2 linked regions of the Homo sapiens genome follow. The protein of the gene in region 1 purifies or fractionates together with the protein of each later gene. This does not show direct contact. Each region holds a gene or a part of one and is shown in the gene's direction. Other genes may lie near its edges.

Region 1 (3,500 bases):
CGTCAGGTTATCCCTGTATCTCTGAAACCACTTCTAATCTGGTTCCTCCTTATATTGTCTGAGCTCCCTCTAGAGCACTCCGGCTCAGTCCAGTGGCCCTTGTAGAATCTGGGCTGAGGTTTCTCCAGAGACTCTTGAATGGTCTCATGGATTTTGATCATGTCATTTGGGGGGACCTTTGGGTCCCTGACCCTTGGTTGTTTGTGTGCCTTAATGTATTTGGGCACTTTTCTAGGTGTCCCAGGCTGGGGCTCTTAGGGGTGAGGAGAGGAATTCTTTTTGTATTATGGATAGTGTAACTGTGATTTTTTTTTTGTTTGTGTTTAATGGGAAATGGATTATTGCCTCTACCTAAAACTTCTCACCTTGTCCAGAAAGGGTCCCAATGTAGGCATGTGTGCCTCAAGATGTAAACTGAAATGAGTAGATGTGGGGAAGGGAGAGGGGAGCAGAGCAGCTGAGGAAAACTGCTAGCAAGAACCACTGACCTTCATTTCATAAGTAATTCAAGAAATCCTTGCCTTTCATAGACACACTGCGATCCTGGCTATCTCTTGCGGTCCTCCAAAGATATACAGAAATAGAAAATTTTTCTATTTTTAATTTTTCAGAATTGGGTTATAAGTGATGGGTTCTCAATTTTGGAGAATGAGGCCTACAAAGGGTTATCTTTGTGTCTTGTGTGGTCCTTGGTGTTTGCCACCCTGTGTTCTAGGCCAGGCTTGCTGATGTAGGTCCTTGAGCAAGTCACCGAACGTTTCTGAGCCTCAGTTCTCTCCCTTGTAAATCGCAGAGGTAGAAAGGAGTTGGACTTGCTGATTTTTGCAGCCCTTCTAGGTCTGGCCACCTGGGCTTCAGATTACTATAAGCCTTTGGAATTTGAATATGTTGATGAAGTGGGCTCAGTGGGTAAAGAATGTTTGAATAAAGGGATACACGGCATATGTCCTCTAGGTACTGGGTGCTTTATACGGGTTTTAATTTATTTCATCATCCGAGCTGCGCTGGTAGTGGGTAAAATTAACCCCACTCTGCAGATGTGCAAATCAAGGCTAAAGGAGGTTGAGTGACTTGTCCAAGATGATCCACTTGCTCAGTGGCAGGGCTGGTATTTAGAGCTGTGCAGGCAGATGTACTGAGGGAGGGATCCATGGCAGGATAATGGTGGGGCTGGAGCAGGAATCTTTTGTCTGCCTTTGTTTCCTTGCATGCTGTTTCTGTACTAGAAGTCATGTGCTGGTTTTGAGATAAACTAGCTCAGCCAGGTCACTGTAGCTTATCCACTCACTGTCTGGGACCACAGAAGATTGGAGGACCCTGGTTCTGAAAGGGATCTTACAGTTCTTTGGATCAAGCTCCTCAATTTGTTTTGCTTTGTTTTGTTTTTTTTTTTTTTTTTTTTGAAACAGTCTCGCTCTGTCACCCAGGCTGGAGTGCGGTGGCATGATCTCAGCTCACTGCAACCTCCACCTCCCAGGCTCAGAGATTCTCATGTCTCAGCCTCCCGAGTAGCTGGGACTACTGACGTGCACCACCACGCCCGGCTAATTTTTTGTATTTTTAGTAGAGATGGGGTTTCAATATGTTGGCCAGGCTGGTCTTGAACTCCTGACCTCAAGTGATCCACCTGCCTCAGCCTCCCAAACTGCTGGGGTTACAGGTGTGAGCCACTGTGCCTGGCCAAGCCCCTCAATTTGTAGCTGAGAAAATGGAGGTCCACAGAAGTTAGGGGATTTGTTTCATGTCACTTGATGAGTTGACAGATGGGAAGAAATGGACACAAAGACTCCCTGTCTTAGGTGTTTGGAGTTGTATTTTTATAACTTTTTTTTTTAAGAAAAAATAAAACAACAACACTCATTCATTTGAGACACATGGGGTGAGTGAGTTGCATTTAGTTATTCTCACCTCCAGGCCCCTTTCCAGTGCCAAAAGATTGGAGTAGGCTTATGGAAAACCTCCTCTGCTTGGCTTTGTGGCTGGTGTCTGAGACACAGAGGGCAACAGGCAAGCTGAGTATGAGACCTGGTCACTTTCCTTGAGCAGGCTCAGGCTGTGTTTCCTGGGGTCTTCTAGCTCACAGGTTAGCAGTCCTTCCCAATGGATGGGCTGAGACCCTGACCCTTTCCTCCTGCGTGCGGCTGGCACCGAATCTGTGCCACTGTAAGAGTAGTTGCCACATGCCGTGTGGTTTTTGTTCTTTGTCTTCCCGACTAAGAGGCATGCTTCCAGAGCGTAGCTCCCAAAATATTGAATTTAATTAATTGGTGGAGCTGCCTAATGGGGAGGCGGGTATCAATAGCTTGGACGAGCACCCAGAATAAAAACCATCCCGTGGTTATTAAAAAGCACAGTGCAGATACTTGACCCTTTTCATGATCACTATAGCATTAAGAAAGTCTCACCCAAATAACAGGCTTCAGAAATTCAAATTATTATCATAGGAAAGAGGAGTTATAATTATTCTGCAGGGCTGGAGGGCAAAGCTAGCTGCAGCAGTGGAATTTGGAGAAAAGCCGATAGCAGATAGAGGAAGAACGTGCTGGTAGTGGAGTTGTCCAGCAGGGGGAGCCCACCTTCCAAGGCCCTGTCATCATTGAAGCCCTGGCAAGGAGTGGAACTTGGCAATCTGTAACTTCCTTTCTAGAGCTAACATTTCTTGATTATCTATCAAGCGGGAGTAAATTAGAGGAAGCTAAGGGTACAGCAACACTGTGTCTTACTCATTTTTTAGGCTCTAAACCCATTGTATGGTGTGAAAATCATGTGTAGCCAAAAATACCCTAAATATATTTTAATGGTCAGAAAGTTGCATTATACATGGTTTTTGTGTATGAAACCCTGAATAGTAATTCCCTGTGCTATCCAGTGTGCAAAACTCTGGCCTACAGCAAAAGAAGTAGAAAAAGAAGGTCAAAAAAGAAGTTGTCTGCATCTTCATGCTGCTCTGTTTTTAAGGTAACTGTCAAATCTCTAGGGCATGGGGTGAAGGAGAGGGAATTCTTAGGAGTATGTATTTGCTTGCAAGGTTTCCGTCATTCAGTTTGGATAAACAGCCTCTAATACCTTCATACATGTTGTTTCAGTCCATTTTGCATTGCCATTAAGGAATACCTGAGACTGGGTAATTTATAAAGAAAAGAGGTTTATTTGGCTCAAGGTTCTGCAGGCTGTACAAGCATGGCACCAGCATCTGCTCAGCTTCTGGTGAGGCCTCAGGAAGCTTTAACTCATGGCAGAAGGCGAAGGGGTAACAGGCATATCACATGGTGAGAGAGAGAGCAACAGAGAGAGGAGTACGTGCCAGGCTCCTATTAACAACCAACTCTTGTGTGAACTAATAGGGCAAGAACTCACTCATCACCAAGGGGAGGACACCAAGCCATTCATGAGGGATCCACCCCCATCACCAAAACACCTCCCAGCAGGCCCCACCTTCAATACTGGGGATCACATTTCAAAAATATTTTTGAGGGTATTTTTAGCTACACATGATTTTC
Region 2 (3,500 bases), on another chromosome or scaffold:
GTTTAGAACACAGTTTCTTATTTGGAGTCTGCCTATACCTTATATCTTGACATGATATAATTGTAAGTAAAATGCTATACTTTTTAAGCTAGGGTATTTGGAATTGGGCAGTCCCAGTTAAGTCACTTCTTTAAGGCTGTATCATCACCTGAAAAATGGACTGATTATAAAGATCAAATACATATGAAAGCAGTTTTGAAACTAAACAGCTATAGAAATGATGTTATATTCAACTGAGCATTCATTCTGTGCAAGCAGTGGTGTTTGGCGGCTGCATATATACTTGTAGAGGTGCTACCTAATCTCACCCTTTGTGGAAACAAGTGCTATTTCTCCTGAAATCATGCTTGGTGGAAAGTTCTGTTAGACAGCTGGTAGAGTACATTTTCTTAAATATTTGCAGGACATAGCCATGTGTTAGTTGTTCATGTTAAGAGTAGCCTGTGCCACTGTTTCCTAGACAGATTTATAAATACTCTGATTTCTTTGTTCTTGTCTTATCCCACCAGGAGGTGAAACAGCAGAAATGCCTGACATGTATCCCCCTGGAGAGTATGACCTAGCTGGGTTTGCCGTTGGTGCCATGGAGCGAGATCAGAAACTCCCTCACCTGGAAAGAATCACTGAGGGTGATGTTGTTGTTGGAATAGCTTCATCTGGTCTTCATAGCAATGGATTTAGCCTTGTGAGGAAAATCGTGGCAAAATCTTCCCTCCAGTACTCCTCTCCAGCACCTGATGGTTGTGGTGACCAGACTTTAGGTAAACTCCCTCATGTTTAAACTGTCCTGCTTGGAAATGCCTGAGCAAGCATTTAGTGGTTTTAGTCTCTGATTACTTAGAGCTAAAAGGGAATGAATTACCTTGGTTTGCTACTTGGTCATTATTGTAGAGCTGGTGTCATTCTCCAGGTTGATTTTTATGTTTTGGTTTTCTATTCATAGGCTAAGTTTTTGTCTTCTCTCTTCAACATGCAGGGGACTTACTTCTCACGCCTACCAGAATCTACAGCCATTCACTGTTACCTGTCCTACGTTCAGGACATGTCAAAGCCTTTGCCCATATTACTGGTGGAGGATTACTAGAGAACATCCCCAGAGTCCTCCCTGAGAAACTTGGGGTAGATTTAGGTAAGATCACTAAAACGAACTTCTGTTCAGAAAATTGCTGAGGAAAAAAATGCATTGTGCGAGAAAACTATGGGTAGTTAATGTACACATGATTACACATGGAAAATTCTTAATCATTGGGGGTTTTGGGAGGGAAAAACTCGACCCTTTTCTATCTCTTTTTGCTTCATTATCTGTATTTATAAGACATAAAATATTGTCATGTAATTGGCTTACATAAAGTTGAAGTACTCGATAAGTAGGTCCTCCAAGGGGATTGGTAACTTCAAGCTCTATTAAGATGGAGCCCTACACACCAGGAAAGGAAATGTTAGCTATTAAGTAATCCATATTCGAGATAAAAGGACCTAAACCAAGGCATAGAGAAGGGAGGCACATTGGAGAATCATTTTATGCTTAGAAGTAAAAAGAAGTCTCAGGTTTCTAGTTAAGCAGGTGAGTAGGCGGTAACATCATTAACATAGGAAGAAGAGTAAGTTTGGAATAGAAGGTTTTTAAATCTTCAGTGTGTTTATTCCAAGGTGACTGTGAGCAGAAGTTGAAGTCATGCTGAAGATAAATTGGGTGATTATTTGCACGTAGTAATAGTTATAGCCAAGAGAATGAGGGAGACCAAAAGGTTGTTTCTCAAAGTAGAGTGACTGAAAAGAACAGTCCAAAGTAGTGGGTAAACCATGTAAAAGTATTATCATCAAACCAACATGGGATTTTTTTCTTTTCTTTTTTTTTTTTTTTTTTTTTTAGACAGAGTCTCACTCTGTAGCCCAGGCTGGAGTATAGTGGCGCAATCTCAGCTCACTGCAAACTCTGCCTCCTGGGTTCAAGCGATTATCCTGCCTCAGCCTCCCAAGTAGCTAGGATTACAGGCACCCGCCACCATGCCCGGCTAATTTTTGTATTTTTAGTAGAGACAGGGTTTCACCTTGTTGGCCAGGCTGGTTTCGAATTCCTGACCTCAAGTGATCCGCCCGCCTCAGCCTCCCAAAGTACTGGGATTACAGGCATGAGCCACCGCGCCCGGCCCCAAGGTAGGATTTTAACGTGACACTGGTCCGCAGTGTCAGGTACAGCACAAAGATCTAGAATAAGCACTAGAAAAAGACCAGTGTATTTTAGAGTTAGGTCAAAAGTCAGTTTGCTGGACATAGATACCACCCACTAGATTGTTGTGGCAGAGTTGTGGAGACAGTGGGTAGAGATTTCTGTTTGAAGAAACATACTGGTAAAAGGGAAGTGGAATAATTTTATGCATGCAGCAAAAGTGAGGGACAGAGTCCTCCCTCCCTGTGTTCTTTTTTGTTTTTTGTTTTTCGTTTTTTTTTTTTTTTTTTTTTTTGAGTTGGAGTCTTGCTCTGTCGCCAGGCTGGAGTCGCCAGACTGGAGTGCAGTGGCGCAATCGCAGCTCACTGCAACCTCCGCCTCCTGGATTCAACTGATTCTCCTGCCTCAGCCTCCCAAGTAGCTGGGACTACAGGTGCCCGCCACCATGCCCGGCTAATTTTTGTATTTTTAGTAGACACGGGGTTTCACCGTGTTGGCCAGGATGGTCTCAATCTCTTGACCTCATGATCCACCCGCCTTGGCCTCCCAAAGTGCTGGGATTACAGGCATGAGCCACTGTGCCCAGCCCCTCCCTTCCTTGTTTTTGTAAAATAAAGTCAGAGAAACTTTTCCAGCTATAGTCAACTAATACACATTGATTTGAAGGAGTAGAAACTGAGGGAGTTTACATAAAATAACTTCTCTGTGAAGTATTAGTGAGATGATCAGGCCTGGGGTGGGAGCTTGAAGAGAGGAGTGGATAAAGCAGTCAAGGTCAAACAGGAGTGAGACAGTGAGCAGGACTGAAGGCACAGGTGAAGGTGAAGCTGCTCATGTAGTTTTTCTCCCAGAGCAAAAGCATGTATATAGCTTTGAAGCAAGAACAGAAAAAAAATAGATTAGTTAGGTTGATCCAGCTGAACTAAGCAGGTATTGGGGTCATTCATTGGGGAGAAGCAGTCAGAGTGATAGAGGTGAGTAGATATGGTGAGCTAACCCAAGAGTCAGAGCGTATGTGAAGCTCGGAGAGAACTGAAGAGTCAGAGGTAGGTTGTGTGGAAGTGAGGAAATCGGCAAGGGAAGCTGGGAGAGTGGTCAGATGGGATTTCAGCCTAGTCAGGGAAGCAAAACAGACAGGCCAGGCTAGGCTGAGTGGGAGTCTCTTCCAGGTCCATGGACTGAGCATATTAAGGAGTTGAAGGATTCATAGGAGGGTGAAACTAGTGGTTCAAGACATTCCTTGGGTAGAAATGCTTTCTGGTGAGCATATATAAGAACCTTAATAAGTAGTTCATTCATCATCCTTTTCAAATAGTTAAAAAACAGTGGC

What was found. The genes of interacting proteins can lie anywhere in the genome.
Region 2: the proteins of SYN3 (region 1) and GART purify together in Homo sapiens (co-immunoprecipitation; one large-scale study listed by IntAct). This does not show direct contact.

The regions. Positions count from the first base shown.
Region 1 is NC_000022.11:33,048,382-33,051,881, reverse strand, and holds part of SYN3 (synapsin-3), read left to right. Parts: intron 1-3,500. UniProt on the Homo sapiens protein: May be involved in the regulation of neurotransmitter release and synaptogenesis.
Region 2 is NC_000021.9:33,514,618-33,518,117, reverse strand, and holds part of GART (trifunctional purine biosynthetic protein adenosine-3), read left to right. Parts: intron 1-509; coding exon 510-761; intron 762-976; coding exon 977-1,129; intron 1,130-3,500. UniProt on the Homo sapiens protein: Trifunctional enzyme that catalyzes three distinct reactions as part of the 'de novo' inosine monophosphate biosynthetic pathway.